Homo sapiens: one gene and its partner. The protein of the gene in region 2 purifies or fractionates together with the protein of the main gene of each other region. This does not show direct contact. Each region holds a gene or a part of one and is shown on either strand. Other genes may lie near its edges.

The links. Proteins that work in one complex are often made in the same cells at the same time.
Region 1: the proteins of LAMP2 (region 2) and TMEM192 purify together in Homo sapiens (affinity purification with western blotting; 5 studies listed by BioGRID and IntAct, with this or other methods). This does not show direct contact.

Annotation. Positions count from the first base shown.
Region 1 is NC_000004.12:165,109,578-165,117,608, reverse strand, and holds the start of TMEM192 (transmembrane protein 192), read left to right. Parts: upstream 1-4,748; 5' UTR 4,749-4,835; coding exon 4,836-4,862; intron 4,863-8,031.
Region 2 is NC_000023.11:120,452,043-120,459,769, forward strand, and holds part of LAMP2 (lysosome-associated membrane glycoprotein 2 isoform A precursor), read right to left. Parts: intron 4,728-7,727; coding exon 4,609-4,727; intron 3,529-4,608; coding exon 3,315-3,528; intron 1-3,314. UniProt on the Homo sapiens protein: Lysosomal membrane glycoprotein which plays an important role in lysosome biogenesis, lysosomal pH regulation and autophagy.

The DNA.
Region 1 (8,031 bases), on a different chromosome or scaffold from region 2:
CAGATTTTGATGTTGAAAAAAAATCAATGAGATATTATTAACATTTTAATATCTGTGATCAGGAATGAGCACGGTGCCTGGAACAATGCTGATGGTGACAACACAGGAAAGATGGGGCTTCAGTCCAGCATCTTCTAATGGTGAACTGTTTGGTAGCATAGAGGTGGAAAGGTCATGGCTGACACTCCTATAACAAAAGCCAGATTAACAAGAGAAAAGCATAACAGATTTATTTATTTATTTATTTAAGAGGGAGTCTCGCTCTGTCACCCAGGCTGGAGTGCAGTGGCGCGATCTCGGCTCACTGCAACCTCTGCCTCCCGGGTTCAAGCAATTCTCCTGCCTCAGCCTCCTGAGTAGCTGGGATTACAGGTGATCTAATGACAATAGACTGAGTAGGGATAAGAATTTACAAGCATCTACTTTAATGCTTAGTACCAGGGTCAGCAAGGCCTGTTTGTTCAAAAGTCATAGAGAAACTTGGCTTTTGAGGCCTGCCAATGTGTCCTTCACTTCAAGTACTCAGCATGCAAAAGCACTATACTTGTGATATTATCCTCTTCTTTTTTTTTGTTGTTGTTGTTGAGACAGGGTCTTGCTCTGTCACACAGGCTGGAGTGCACTGGCATGATCTCGGCTCACTGCAACCTCTGCCTCCCAGGTTCAAGAAATTCTTGTGCCTCAGCCTCCTGAGTGGCTGAAACTACAGGCACGCACCACCACACCTGGTTAATTTTTGTATTTTTGATAGAGACGGGGTTTCACCATTTTGGCCAGGCTAGTTGCATTTTTAAACTTTTAAATCTGAAAAGTGTCTTGCTCTGTTGCCCAGGCTGGAGTGCAGTGGTGCAATCTCCGCTTCTGGGTTCAAACCATTCTCCTGCCTCAGCCTCCTGAGTAGCTGGGATTACAGGCGCATGCCACCATGCCTGGCTAATTTTTGTATTTTTAGTAGAAATGGGGTTTCGTCTGTTGGCCAGGCTGGTCTTGAAGTCTTAATGTCAGGTGATTCGCCCGCCTTGGCCCCCCAAAGTGCTGGGATTACAGGTGTGAGCCACTGCGCCTAGCCGATATTATCTTCTGAGCCCCAACACTAGGAAAACAGCTTCTCTCCTCCTCTCCTTACTCCTCATAAGTAAATAAACGCAAGAATCTTCACCAAAAGATCTTTAGTCATACAAAAATGAAGTGTCAGATACTTTTTAAATATAACTTATTTACAGGGCTATGCTTATATAAATTGCTTTAACAGTCATTAGAGCATTATATGGGCTGAGAACATATTTTTAATATATTATTAAAACAATGGGTCTGGCATGGTGGCTCTTGCCTGTAATCCCAGCACTTTGGGAAGCCGAGGCAGAAGAATCACTTGAGACCAGGAGTTCAAGACCAGCCTATAGTGAGACTCTGTCTTTACAAACAAAAAACAAACAAAAATGATTATGTATGTTAATAATGCCTTAATAAATCTGATTTAGACAAAAAATGACTAACATTTGCTTAGTGCTTTGTAGAGACAACATTGTATAAAGAGCATTACATGCATTATTTTATTTAATAGAAAATCTCTGGCTGGGCACAGTGGCTCACGCCTGTAATCCCAGCACTTTGGGAGGCTGAGGTGGGCAGATCACTTGAGGTCAGGAGTTCAAGACCAGCCTGGCCAACATGGTGAAACGCTGTCTCTACTAAAAATGCAAAAATTAGCCAGGCATGGTGGCTGACGCCTGTAATCTCAGCTACTTGGGAGGCTGAGGCAGGAGAATGACTTGAATCTGGGAGGCAGAGGTTGCACTGAGCCAAGATCACGCCATTGCACACCAGCCTGAGCGACAAGAGTGAAACTCTATCTCAAAACAAAACAAAACAAAACAAAAGGAAAGAAAATTTCTGTAAAAGGGAAACTAAAACTTCCCCACCTCAGCCTCCAAAGTAGCTGCTACTACAGGTGCACGTCACCACACCTAGCTAATGTTCTAATCTTTTGTAGAGACAGAGACTCACCATGTTGCCCAGGCTAGTCCCGTACTCCAGGCACCAAACAATCCTCCTGCCTTGGTGTCTCAACATGCTAGGGGCCATAGGCATGAGCCACCTTGCCCAGTCAGCTCCTAAGAACTTAAGCTAAGTGCCCAATATCACATGCTTGGTAAGATGCAGAACTCAAACCTCCATGACTAATTCTGGAGCCCTGGTCTTAACCAGTGTGCTGTCCCTGTGAAAGTACATGTCTTGGCTAGGTGCAGTGGCTCACACCTGTAATCCCTGTACTTTGGGAGACTGAGGCGGGAGGGTGGCTTGAGACCAGGAGTTTTGAGACCAGCGTGGGCAACATAACAAAGTCCCATCTTCACAAAAAGAAAAATCTTAAAAATAAGCCTGGTATGGATGTGTGAACATATAGTCCCAGATGCTTGGGAGGCTGAAGAGGGAGGATTGTTTGAGCCCAGGAGGTTGAGGCTGCAGTGAGCTATGATAGCGCCCCTGTGCTCCAGCCTGGTTAACAGAGTGAGATCCTGTGTCGAAAACAACAACAGAAAAGCATGTCTTGACATAATAATGAAATGAAATGTGTGAACCTTGATTGGATTCTGGTTACTGAAAAAGAAAAAACAGCAGCTGGGCCAGGCACAGTGGTGTATGCCTGTTATCCAAGCTACTTGGGAGGCTGAGGTGGGAGGATTGCTTGAACTCAGGAGTGTGAATCCAGCCTGGGCAACATAGCAAGACTCCATCTCAAAAACAAAACAAAACAAAATAAAACAAAAAAAGCAGCTAAAAAAGACATTTTGGAAACAACTTAGAAAATTTTTGCCATAGATTGGTTATTAGTAAACATGGAATTACTATTAGTTGTGTGTAATATTGATATTGTGGTTATGAAAGAAAATATAAAATATCCTTATTTTAGGCAACAAAGTATCTAGGAATGAAGCTTCATATTGTCTTCAATTTACTTTCAAGTAGTTCAGTTAAAAAATGGCCAGGCACGGTGGCTCACACCTGTAATCCCAGCACTTTGGGAGGCCAAGGCAGGCGGATCACAAGGTCAGGAGATCGAGACCATCCTGGCTAACACAGTGAAACCCCGTCTCTACTAAAAATACAAAAATTAGCTGGGTGTGGTGGCGGGCGCCTGTAGTCCCAGACCCTGGGGAGCCTGAGGCAGGAGAATGGCGTGAACCCGGGACGCGGAGCTTGCAGTGAGCCGAGATCGCGCCACTGCACTCCATCCAGCCTGGCGACAGAGCGGGACTCCATCTCAAAAAAAAAAAAAAAAAAAAAAGTATGTGAACACACACACCCACACACAGAGCAACCAAGACAAAAAATGAACAACTAATGAATCAAGTGTGAGGGGTACATGGATGTTCATTGTATTAATCTTTCAACATTTCTGTAGGCTTGAAAATTTTCAAAATAAAATGCAGAGAAGAAAATTTGCACGTCTAGAAAAGGCTTGTGATAAATAATTCATAGAATCTCAGGATTATGAGACCAGCCTGGGCAACATAGTGAGACCTTGTCTCTACGAGAAAAAAAAGAAAAAGAAAAAAGAAGATCACGTGGAGTCTTACACCATCTCTTCCTTCACTAACATTTGCGTAGTTTTATCTCACACATCCTAAACTGGATCACACTATACTCAATGTACAAATAAGCATTAGAATGTATGAAAGTGGGCAAGACGCGGTGGCTAAACTTGTAATCCCAGCACTTTGGGAGGCCGAGGCGGGCGAGTCACCTGACCTCAGGAGTTCCAGACCAGCCTGACCAACATGGCTAAACCCTGTCTCTACTAAAATACAAAAATAGCCAGGCTTGGTGGCACGCGCCTGTAATCCTAGCTACTCAGGGGGCTGAGGCAGGAGAATGGCTTGAACCTGGGAGCCGAGATTGCACCACTGCATTCCAGCCTGGGCGACAGAGCGAGACTCCGTCTCCGCCGCCCCACCAAAAAAATGTATGAGTGTATATATTCTAACTGATATCAAAGTTCTCTCCGGGAGCTGGTAACAGAAAATTTCTTTCCTTGTTTGCTTACATTTTTACAATCATGAGCTTTTTAGAAAATGTCATTGAAGTTTTTTCTCTTTTTGAAATTCAATTTTAAAAGAAACAAGGGCCCAGTGGCTCACGCCTGTAATCTCAGTACTTTGAGAGGCTGAGGTGGGAGAACTGGCCAGGAGGCCAAGAATTCGAGGCTGCAGTGAGCCGAGGTCGTGCTAGGGCACTCCAGCGTGGGCGACAGAGCGAGACTCTGTCTTAATAAACGAACGCCGTAAGCATTCCGAACTGCTTTGTTTCCCATTGGAGAAATCTGTAAATATGTCATGGAAATTGGAATCTTTATTCTGCTCCTGTCCCTCTGCTGGCGGAGTAGGATTTTACCGCTGGTTCTACCTAGGCGTAGAGCTGTGTCTGCAAACAACCAGGCAAGACCGAAAAAAGTTAATGTTCTTAAAATATGCAAGTGGAGCCCGAAAATAGTTAAATTCTTGGACTAGGAAGGCATCCTTAAATGCTCAAGTCTCTGGGTAAGAGCGCACCGAGGGGCTGCGGCCAGAAGCCCCAGGAACCGAGGTGGTTCAGGCGGTAGCCACCGCCCACAGTCCAGGTCTTCTGGGCCGGCACACCCCTCCCACCATCTCAGCCAATCGGAGCTAAGGGGGCGGGGATCGGGCCAGCCGGAGGCGGGGCGGACGCAGGAGGGGGTGTGTCTGGGGAGGGGCCTGGCAGGTCCCAGAAGGTGGCGAGTTTCGCGGCCAGAGGCTTACAGGTCCAGGTGGAGAGGCCGGGCTGGCCAGGGCTTCGGCCTCCGGCGTCGGGAAATGGCGGCGGGGGGCAGGATGGAGGACGTGAGTGCACGGAGGCGGCGGGCGGTTGGCCCCGGAATCCGCTTTTTCTTGTGCCGGGGCGCACGGGGCGGAGACTCAGAGAGGGAAGCCACCCTTGGCGACTGCGGCCGCGGCCGAAGGGGGCGCCGCCTGTGCCCGGGGAGGCCTGGGCGCGGGGCTTTGGGAGGGCTCCAGGCGGCTGTGGGATCCGCGACACGTTGGCTCCGGGCTAATTTTCCCAGTGGAGGCTGGGGTGGGCTCCTGGGCGGTGGGCGCGCGGCCCCCGGGGGTCCCAGGCTGGCGCCCAGCCCACGTGCGGGGTACGTCTTTGATCCCGGAACTGGCAGCTTCACGTGATGCGCGCCTGGCCTGACAGCCCTTCCTCCCCGCGAGTCTCCGGGAGCCGGGCCGATGGGTTCCGCTCGGACGTCCCAGGGGCACAGGGGGCGAATCTCCCTTCCTGGTGAGGTCCCTTGCCTTGGCTCTAGAGGCTGTGGACTTGGAGTGACAACGACGCTCGGGCCGGGCGCCAGCGTCCCGCAGACCTGTCGCTATCATGGCCTGGAAACCCACACGAGAGAAAAAGTGTCATGTGTTGTTTTGAATCTAGCATGGTAGGAATACAAAGGTTTTTAAATCTTTGATAGATTCAAACCAGATTACCAAAACAAAAACAAAAACAAAAAAACAAAAAACCAGTGGCCTAGTTTACAGCGTGTATAGTACAGAATGGTAGCATAATTACAAAAATCTTATTTCTTTGCTTCAGTATCGTAAGGTGTTTTTAGGAGAAACATGTATGTATGCTGAGAGTTAACTGGATTTTCCACTGGCAAGTAATAAAATTTTTGCTCTTGAGAAATGCAAAGTTGACAGTTACTGTAAAGCACTAATTTGGGTTAATAAATTAGTAGGAATATTACTGTGATCCTATCACTGAATGAACTGCATCAGGAAAAGGAAGAGAAACATGAAACAGTTCCAGCATTACGGTAGCTTAGATTCTTGTGCAGTAACCAGTTAAATAATCTTGATGAAATAAAGACCAAACAATTTCTAATGAAACTAAAATTTTCTATTTTTTCCAGTTGAGAAAATGGAAAATTAACTGTAAGACCTGTAAGTAGATTTGAGACTCATATATATTTAAAGCAAAATTCATTGTTTCTGAGTTTTTAAGGCTGAGCTTCATGAGCTGACAATGTACAGAAAAAACCGAATATGTAAGAGGAAAATGAGAGTGTCTTAGAAAAACACATGCAGTAAGTGCTTCTTGGTTGATGCTAAGCTGCTCTGGCGTTCTTGGATCTGTAGCTTTTAGCTTTAGGATGCATATAGTACTAGAAATCTGCTTCCTCAAACACTGGAGCCTGGGGATGGTCTGGGAGGCTCATGCCTGTAATCCCAGCACTTTGGGAGGCCGAGGCAGGCAGATAACCTGAGGTCAGGAGTTTGAGACCAGCCTGGCCAACATGGCAAAACCCCGTCTCCACTAAAAATACAAAAATTAGCCAGGTGGGGTGGTGGGGGCCTGTAATCCCAGATACTGGGGAGGCAGGAGAATCGCTTGAACCCGGAAGGCAGAGGTTGCAGTGAGCCAAGATCGCATCACTGCACTCCAGCCGGGGCAACAGAGCGACAGAGCGAGACTCTGTCTCAAAAATAAAAATAAATAAAAATTAATTAGAGATTAATGTTTTGCTACCAACCACATATTGGAGTCACTTTAGATCTGAGTAAGTTGCCTGCTTTTGGTATTTTGTAAACATGATTCCTAGCCTTCAAGAAAAAGCTAAAAATTTTGGACCATGCCTTAGTTACAGACACTTAAATGAGTTGAGTCAAAGACTTTGTGTTAGTAGGGATTCATTGTTTGCAGGCAGTGAAACCAACTGTGGCTAATTTAAGAAAAGGATGTATTCGAAAGGCTATAGGGTGAGTATATGCCAAGGCCTCTGAAAGGACCCAAACAAGGGCATCTCAAGGCATTGAAGTGACAGGAGTCCTTTCAGGGTCTACCCTGGAATGAATCTGCCTAAATCATGATCTTTCTTCTTTTTTTGTGATGGAGTTTCACCCTTGTTGCCCAGGTTGGAGTGCAATGGTACGATCTCGGCTCACTGCAACCTCCGCCTCCCGGGTTCAAGTGATTCTTCTGCCTCAGCCTCCCAAATAGCTGGGATTACAGGCATGCACCACCACACCTGGCTAATTTTGTATTTTTAGTAGAGACGGGATTTCTCCATTTTGGTCAGGCTGGTCTCAGGTGATCCATCTGCCTTGGCCTCCCAAAGTGTTGGGATTACAGGCGTGAGCCACCGTGCCCGGCCTCATGATCTTTCTTTTACTGCTCATGGAAAGAGTTGGATTCACCCAACTGTTTTTTGTTCCATGACCACTCCTAGAGCAGAGGAGGAGGAAGGGTATTGAAGGATGGTTCCACTAAGACTTAATGCAGAAGTAGACAGTGGGTCCTCAAAGGAAATAGAGTTATTGTCACAGAAGAGAGAAGAGATACCATGTGGGCAAAAACAACAGACATCTTCTACAGGTGGTAATGTAGTTAATAATGGAAATGAAAAAATCATTTGGATTCAGGAGTCCTCTTCCCCTCACCCTTCACTTGCAGATGGTGAGTTAATAGAATGACTGGGTGCTGTTTGTATGGTTACACTGCATATTTCCTATAGGATTCAATGGAAAGTAAATACTCCTGAGTGACATAGAGAAGAACCATATTATAGTCCCCAACTCCTTCAGTGTAGTTAGGAAAAACAAAAGATACACCCATGAAAAGGAAAACAATACAAGGCAGCATAAGAAATATTCCAAATGAATATTATGGGCAATAAGTTTTATAGGATTTTAAAGCAGAAGGAAAACACTTAACAAGGCCAGTTTTATAGAGAACATAAACTTGGTTAGGACCTTGAAAGATGCATAGAATTCTGAAAAAGGTAAGGGAGGATATTTGTAGGGCTCTATAGAAAGCTCATTTAGGCGAGAGAAGAAGGTGCATGAAAGTGACATATTAGGAGATAAAGTAGATTATTGTCTTATAGTGAAGTTTTCAATGCTAGCTTTGTTTAAATGTCCCAGGTCTGGCCAGGTGCGGTGGCTCACGCCTGTAATCCCAGCACTTTGGGAGGCTGAGGCGGGTGGATCACCTGAGGTCAGAAGTTTGAGACCA
Region 2 (7,727 bases):
AGCCCTTGATTACTATAACAGCTTCTTAAGCCAGCATCTCTGCTTGTAGCCTCCTCACTTCTCAACTAATCCTGCAGAATATTCTTTATAAGCTACTGTCTCTGCTTTTGTTATATCATTCTCCTGCTTTAAAAACCTAAAATGATTCCCCAGTGCCTGCCCCATCAAGCTAAATGTCTTTCCTTGGCTTCCAAGGCCCCCTATAATTTAGGCCCACTTCATTTAGCCAACTTTATTTTCCTTCTGCTACACACACAGCCTGATTTAATCAGGCAGCTCTCCAATTACTGCCGCATATGCTATGCTTCCCCCTGCTGGAAACATCCTGCTCAAAATCCTCCGCTTACTCAAATTCTACCATTAGCTGAGTTTCAGCTCAGGTCCTACTTCTCTACCAAGCTTTCTCACTACTCTAACACACACTGAGCCTTCCTTTATCACTCCTCCTAATCAGGACCACTTGTGGGAACACGGGAACACTTTTAAATCAGCCAGTCTTTTCTTTTTCTTTTCTTTTTTTTTTGAGACAGGGTCTCTCTCTCTCTGTCACCCAGGCTGAGTGTAGTGGTGGGATCACAGCTCACTGGAGCCTCAACCTCCTGGGCTCAAGCGATCCTCCACCCTAGCCACCCAGGTAGCTGGGACCACAGGCACACGCCACCACACCTGGCTTTTTTTTTTTTTTTTTTTTTGTAGAGACAAAGTCTTAATATGTTGCCCAGGCTAGTCTTGAACTCCCTGGCTCAAGTGATCAGCCTGCCTCGGCCACCCAAAGTGCTGGGATTACAGGCATGAGCTACCATTCTCGACCTAAATCAGGCACTCTTAACCACAGGGATCTACATATGGGTTCAGGGACTATGTTCCATATGCAAAGTTTACTGTGTACTTTTTCTTTTTTGAGAGGGAGTCTAAAGTTTTCCTCACACTGTCAGAAGAGATTTATGAACCCTCTACTCCCTCAAACAAAAACGCAAACAACAACAACAAAATCAGACTGAGCTCAATGTTTTCCAATTTTTCCATGTAACTCGGGAATAGCATTTAGCTTTGTCTCCCCAGCTCATTCTTAGGCTACTTGAAAGTGAGGGGCATATCTTATACTAGCTCTGAAAGGCAAAACAGGGCACAAAGATAAACTGATAAGATAGCCAATAACCATTTGCTTTAGTTATACTCTCAAACTAAGAGATTAGTAAAAAGAACACTAGGATTTGATTTCCAAGTCTCATTCTGCAATACCTCCCAAATTTTACGTGAGCTTATTTACTTCTGGTTCTTTCGAATAGGATCTTTTGACATCCTTAAGTCCAAATGAGTTATTAATCCCCAGGTCTAGGCAACTAAAGCCCATCTACCTGTTTCTGGGGTCAGAATGAAACACTATCTGCAAAGAGCTAAGCTACTACAAATACCACATTAACTCAATCTCAACGGGCAGGGGGAGAAAGAAGAGAATTATATCCCTAACAAAATTAAAATCTCGACCACGTGCGGTGGCTCACGCCTGTAATCCCAGCACTTTGGGAGGCTGAGGTGGGTGGATCGTGAGGTCAGGATTTCGAGACCATCCTGGCCAACATGGAGAAACCCTGTCTCTACTAAAAATACAAAGATTAGCCGGGCGTGGTGGCACGCACCTGTAATCTCAGTTACTCAGGAGGCTGAGGCAGGAGAATTGCTTGAACCTGGGAGGCGGAGGTTGCAGTAAGCCGAGATCAGGCCACTGCACTCCAGCCTGGGCGACAGAGCGAGACTCCAGCTCAAAATAATAAAATAAAATAAAATCTCTACACTCTATATCTTCAAAATATTTTAACACGCATTTCAGTTCTGGGAATTACTAGAATGGCCTAATTGCCAATGCTTCCCAAGTTCATTTTGACCTGAAATTGTCTTAAAATAACAGCAAATGTTGACTTTAGTCTCCCCTTATCCACGGTTTTTGCTTTCCCTGGTTTCAGTTACCCATGGTCAATTGAGCTCTGAAAATATTCAATGGAGAATTCCAAAAGTAATCAATTCATAGGTTTTAAAATGTACGCCATTCTGAGTAGCATGATTAAATCTCTTGCTGTCCCGCTCTGCACAACCAGGAACATGAATCATCCCTTTGTCCAGTATATCAACGTTGTCTACACTATCCATCCGTTAGTCACTTAGTAGCCATGTCAGTTATCAGATCAAAAAAAAAAAAAAAACATAGCATTTCCTGTATAGGGTTTAGTAGTAACTGCAGTTTTAGGCATCTACGGGAGATCTTAGAATGATACCCCCTGAGTGTAATGAGGGACTACTACACCTTTAACTAATCATCATTTACTTTTCAATCAAAATCCAACCTAAATGATAAAAAGATTTGAACAAGAGGCATTTCTCCTAGTCTCAGGTTACTTAACTTTTACACATTTAAAATAGCTATTAGTAGCCAGGCACAGTGGTGCATGCCTGTAGTCCCAGCTATTCAGGAGGCTGTGAGGCATGAGGATCGCTTGAATCCAGGAGTTCAAAACCAGCCTAGGCAACATAGTGAGACACCCCCCCCAACCCCCGATCTTGAAAATAAAGTAGCTATTAGTAAAGCATTTTCTCATTCATCAAACCTTTGTTTCATGCACACTACTGAATGAAATCAATAATAGTTAAGTATATGAATTCTGCAGGTCAATAGACTGCTTCAAACACCAGCTCGCCCACTTACCAGACTGTGTGATGTTTGGAAAAGTCATTTAATCTTATCAAGCCTCATTTCCTTTACCTGTAAAAATGAAACAACATCTACTTCCCAGGGTTGCTGTTAAGAATTAAGTGAGATGCTGCAGGTAACACACTAGGTGTGTTACTGTATACTAGGAGATATATATATATATATACACACACACACACACTAGGATATATATATATATATATACACACACACTAGGATATATATATACATATATACTAGGATATGTGTGTATATATATACTAGGATATATGTGTATATATATATATACATATATACTAGGATATACATATATATGTATATATATACACATATATATGTATACTAGGATATATATAGTAAGGTGACTTACTGTATACTAGGATAATACCTGGTATACAGTAAGTCACTCAAGCAATGACAGCAAATATCATCAGTATGTTGGATGGTGTCATATGTGCCATGCATGGGGTCAGTGGGAGGGTTATAAAGACATGAAGTTTCCATGCTAGTTAGGAAGACAGACATTCATAACAATTTTAAAATTGTTTACATTTTTATCATTAATAAAAAGCAAGAGAACATAACACAAATCCATTCTTAAGGTTACCTTTATCTTCAGCATCAGGAAATGTTGTGTTATCACCAGTGTTGTAGGAAAATGAGACGCTGTCAATTGAATAAGTAGATGCTGCCTTGGTAAAATTCGCAATCCAGGAAAAGCCAGGTCCGAACTGCACTGCTATTTTGGGACCATTCTGATCATCCCCACAAATGCTTCCATTATATGTCACAGTGCCATGGTCTGAAATGGTTACAGTTTTCTAAAAGAAATAGAAATTTGGGGGTGAGAAACAAACAGGCAGCAAGGAACACCAAGCATTTATGTAGGGCATGCCACTTCAGCCTAAATCATACATTCTCCATGGCCAGGTTGCCCTTTGCCTGGTTTGCTGTGTAAACCAGTCCCTGATTCTTCTGCTACATACCACTCCTCTGGATAAATTCGTGTATGTCTAAAAAGAAAAGGAAAACTGGCTTGAGCTGCTGTTCTTAAACTGATTTTTTAAAAAATTAGGTTGTAAGTAGTGAGGACCTTAACAAAAAGAAAATAAGAAGGCAAAGGAATTAAGAGGAGATGTCAAAAAGGGGGAGATTTTAGTGTTAGGTTGGTGCAAAAGTAATTGCAGTTTGTGCCAAAAAAAAAAATCGCTTACTTAGGTTGGTGCAAAAGTAATTGTGGTTTGTTCCTTTAATGGCAATTACTTTTGTACCAACCTAAGTAAGCGATTTTTTTTTTTTTTGAGATAGAGTCTCGCTCTGTTGCCCAGGCTGGAGTGCAGTAGCACAATCATGGCTCACTGCAGACTCAACCTCCTGAGCTCAAGCAATCCTCCAGCCTCGGCCCAGCGAGTGGCTGGAGGTACATGTGTGTGCCACCATGCCTGGCTAATTTTTAAAGTTTTTTTGTAGAGATGAGGTCTCACCATGTTGCCCGGGCTGGGTTCAAGCAATCCTCCTGCTTTGGCCTTCCAAAATGCTGGGATCACAGGCATGAGCCACCATGCCCAGATGGGAAGCTGCTTTTTAAAAGGGCAAGCTTTGGTGCTAGTACATTTTAAACACTTTACAGAAATACTTAGACCTGAACACCATATAGTCGTCTTCAGATCATTTGCCCTTAATCAAGTCCTACAAAAACTCCCAAGAACCAATGAATCAGAAGAAATATTCATTCTAACACTAAACAGAATAACTTCTGAGTGTGTATGCTTAAAAAAAATCCCAGAGTTTCAGCATTAAGTCAGTCAACGTGGAATTTCATTTGTATACGTGTATCTAAAGGATAAAGTCAATTAAATTCCTACTATAAAACTCAAAGAAAAATTAAAATATATACTTACATAAGTTTTATTTGTAGTTTCATAGCGTACTGTGAAATTCATCTGCCATTTTGCATAAAGGCAAGTGGCATTTTCTGAATCTGTCAAATTAAGTTCCAATGCATAAGACCGCACAGCTCCTGGATTCATTTAAAAAAATAATATTTTAAAATTGTACTACAAAAATTATATAAATTAAAAACAAGCTCTACCCACCACTGAAGTTCAACCAGCTCTAAAATGAAACAAAAGTATTTTATATCTATATATACACATACATATATATACATATATGTGTATATACATATATGTATGTGTATAGATACAGTATCCTGCTGACTGTTTTTCTTTGTATTTTTAACAGAATCCTATTGATAAAAAAGTTGGCATTATCCCTTACCAAAAGAATGGTTACTAGACCTAGGATGCTTAGGTCATGGCTCAGACTGGTGACATTTATTTGCCTTTTGCCTTCAAATAATCATTTCCACATGCATTTATACCTTACTAGTTTTGTTTTAGGCAATTACAGTTTGCCTGTTAGGACTTGTGGTTTTTGCGGTAAATGAGGTAAGAGGAAGCCTGGTAGGGGTGTAAAACTTCTCTCAAACCAGCTGGTGAAACATTCACTGCAAAAATAATGATAGATCCGATATTCTACCATCTTTTTGCTTTAAATCCTGTTGCAAGCTACATAATCTATGACACACGGATGTCTTCCCAAACGATTTTATTCTGATGTGATCAGATACTCTTTCTATCATGTAACCAAGGAAGCAGAGTTGCAAAGGGCTGTTAAATCCATGAGAAAAACATGAATTCTGATAAATGCAAAGTTCATCACTGTTTCACTTTAAAATCGAATTGATTAGAAAGGCTGATGAATTTTTTGACGCAAAGTTATTTCCTAAATTTTCAACCTGCTACCTCTTTAGGCAGAGAAATGTTACAGAGACAGAAAAGCCTTGGAACTTTTCAGCTAACATGGTGGATCTTCTACACTTAAACATAGAAACATTATCTATTAAACTGAAGAGCCCAAGGACTCAAAATACTAATTCAGAGGAGAAAAAATATCCCAGCAAACATGCCAGCAGCATAAATATTGGGCAACCATTTAAGGGATTTTCTTCACTGTATCACACATTACCCAAAGGGTAAGCTGTTTCCTGTTAAGATACTTGCATACTCTTTAATAATATCTGAGCAATCCACTGTCATCTACAGGTACAGACTTGCTATAGACTAGAGAAAAGTGCTAAGAGGAATATCAAGAAGGTATGCCTCAGCAACAGCTTTCAAGTTGTATAGAAGAGCCTATCGTCATGCTCTGGAGACCTGGCTGCTTTGCAAGCCAGAATATTATACTAAAGCTTGTGGTTACTGACAGTGACTAAATGCATTGGCTAAGGCTCAAAAAGACCTTGTGAGGCCTAAGTAGGTTTTATGATCATTCTTTTCTAAGTACAATACGGAAGGGAGCTGTTATACTTACTGATCCAAGGCTCCCTGCCATGGAGCCAAGAGCTCCAACTTACAATTTTAATGAACTGGAGGTTTGCTTTTTATATGCAGTCTTTTCTCGGTCTTGTTTAAGGTCTCTAGCTTTAGTATATTATTCTCCTTGTATTCAAAACATTCAAAAGTATTGAAAATTACCAAGAAAAGCCTCACATGTATTAATCATTTTCTTTCCAAATATATTAGAATAACAGGAAGAAGACCATGTAAAATAGTAATAGCATCGATAGCTTGCATCAATGTGTCTTAGGGTGTGAGAACTGACGTTTTATGAAACAAAAGGTAGAGGTTGTGGTTCAAACGTATCACTTAAAATTAAATTCAAGATAGTATACCTGGTGGCCCGTAAACAAGAGCTGAGAAACACCCTGAGGGTTCTGGCACACTCTGTTCCATTCCCTTCACAGCCTTTCTGCCTGAGTGCAATTCTTTCCACTTCTTGGTCCCCAACTCTAACTGCACAGGGACCACTTTTACTCAATATCTCTCACCTCAAACTCAGCAATTCCCAAACTAAAATTCATTCTTCTGCTTCCTCCAAACTGGGTCCCTCCTCAGCTTTGCTAGCTCTAAATGAAGAGTGGGATCAGTCACTCAAGCTCAGTTTCAGAAATAGCCTCTACTTCTTTCTCTTCAAGAAGTCCTATTGATTTTTTTCCTTCAAATCTTCTCTTAAATACAATCTTTGTCTTTTATTTCTACTCCCAATCTATCACCCCACACCTAAATTATGACAGAAAATGCCTAGATACCCCTAGAAGTGCTGCCAGATTAATAATCCTTAAGTACCATTTCCTTTTAGGACACTTTCTTGTTCAAAAACTTTTACTGGCTCCAACATTCCCATATGAAATTTAAATTCCTCTGCCTGACTTTCAAAGTAATCTTTAATCTTGTCCCATCCTATTCCTTCAACTTTTCTCAAACTATTTTCCCAGAGCACACCCTTTAATCCAGTTAAACTTGTTTCCACTGGGCTCAAATGCCATACTCTATTCAACCTCTACCCTGGGCTTCTATTGTTCCTAACACTTGAAATCTACTTTCTTCTATTGGCCTAAATGCTCACCTCAAAGATGGATTTTGCTCGCTTTTTGGCTGCCCCAAATCTGAAACACCCCTTGTCCCCTTGTTACAATTTCTGGCAGAAATCACCACCCACTATAAAAGCTGAAAACACTGGATACTTGCTTTCCCAGACTCCCTTGCAGTAAGGAGGACCACTTGTGCTAGGCTCTGCCTAACAAAGGTATCCACCCCACACTTTGAAAGGAGGGCTGCAAATGGAGCCAGGAATGGAACAGGGAGGGAGACAGGTGTGGAGTAACAGAAGCAGGATCAAGCTCCCAGGCAACAAGGCCAGCAGAGCAAGCTTCAATTTCACACTTGGCAGTGGTAGTGCAGTTCAGCAGCATGATCTGGGTTGTTGAATCCTGAACTGGGATTTGGTATATATAGCCAGGAGCACCAGAAATTCTGAGTTACCCAATATACCCCTTTAATAAACATTTGATATGTAACATATGTACAGAAACAGGCACAGTATAACAGATGTAAGGGAAAAGTGCACGTAACATTAAGTCTACAGCTCAAATAATTTCACAAACCAAAACCACCTG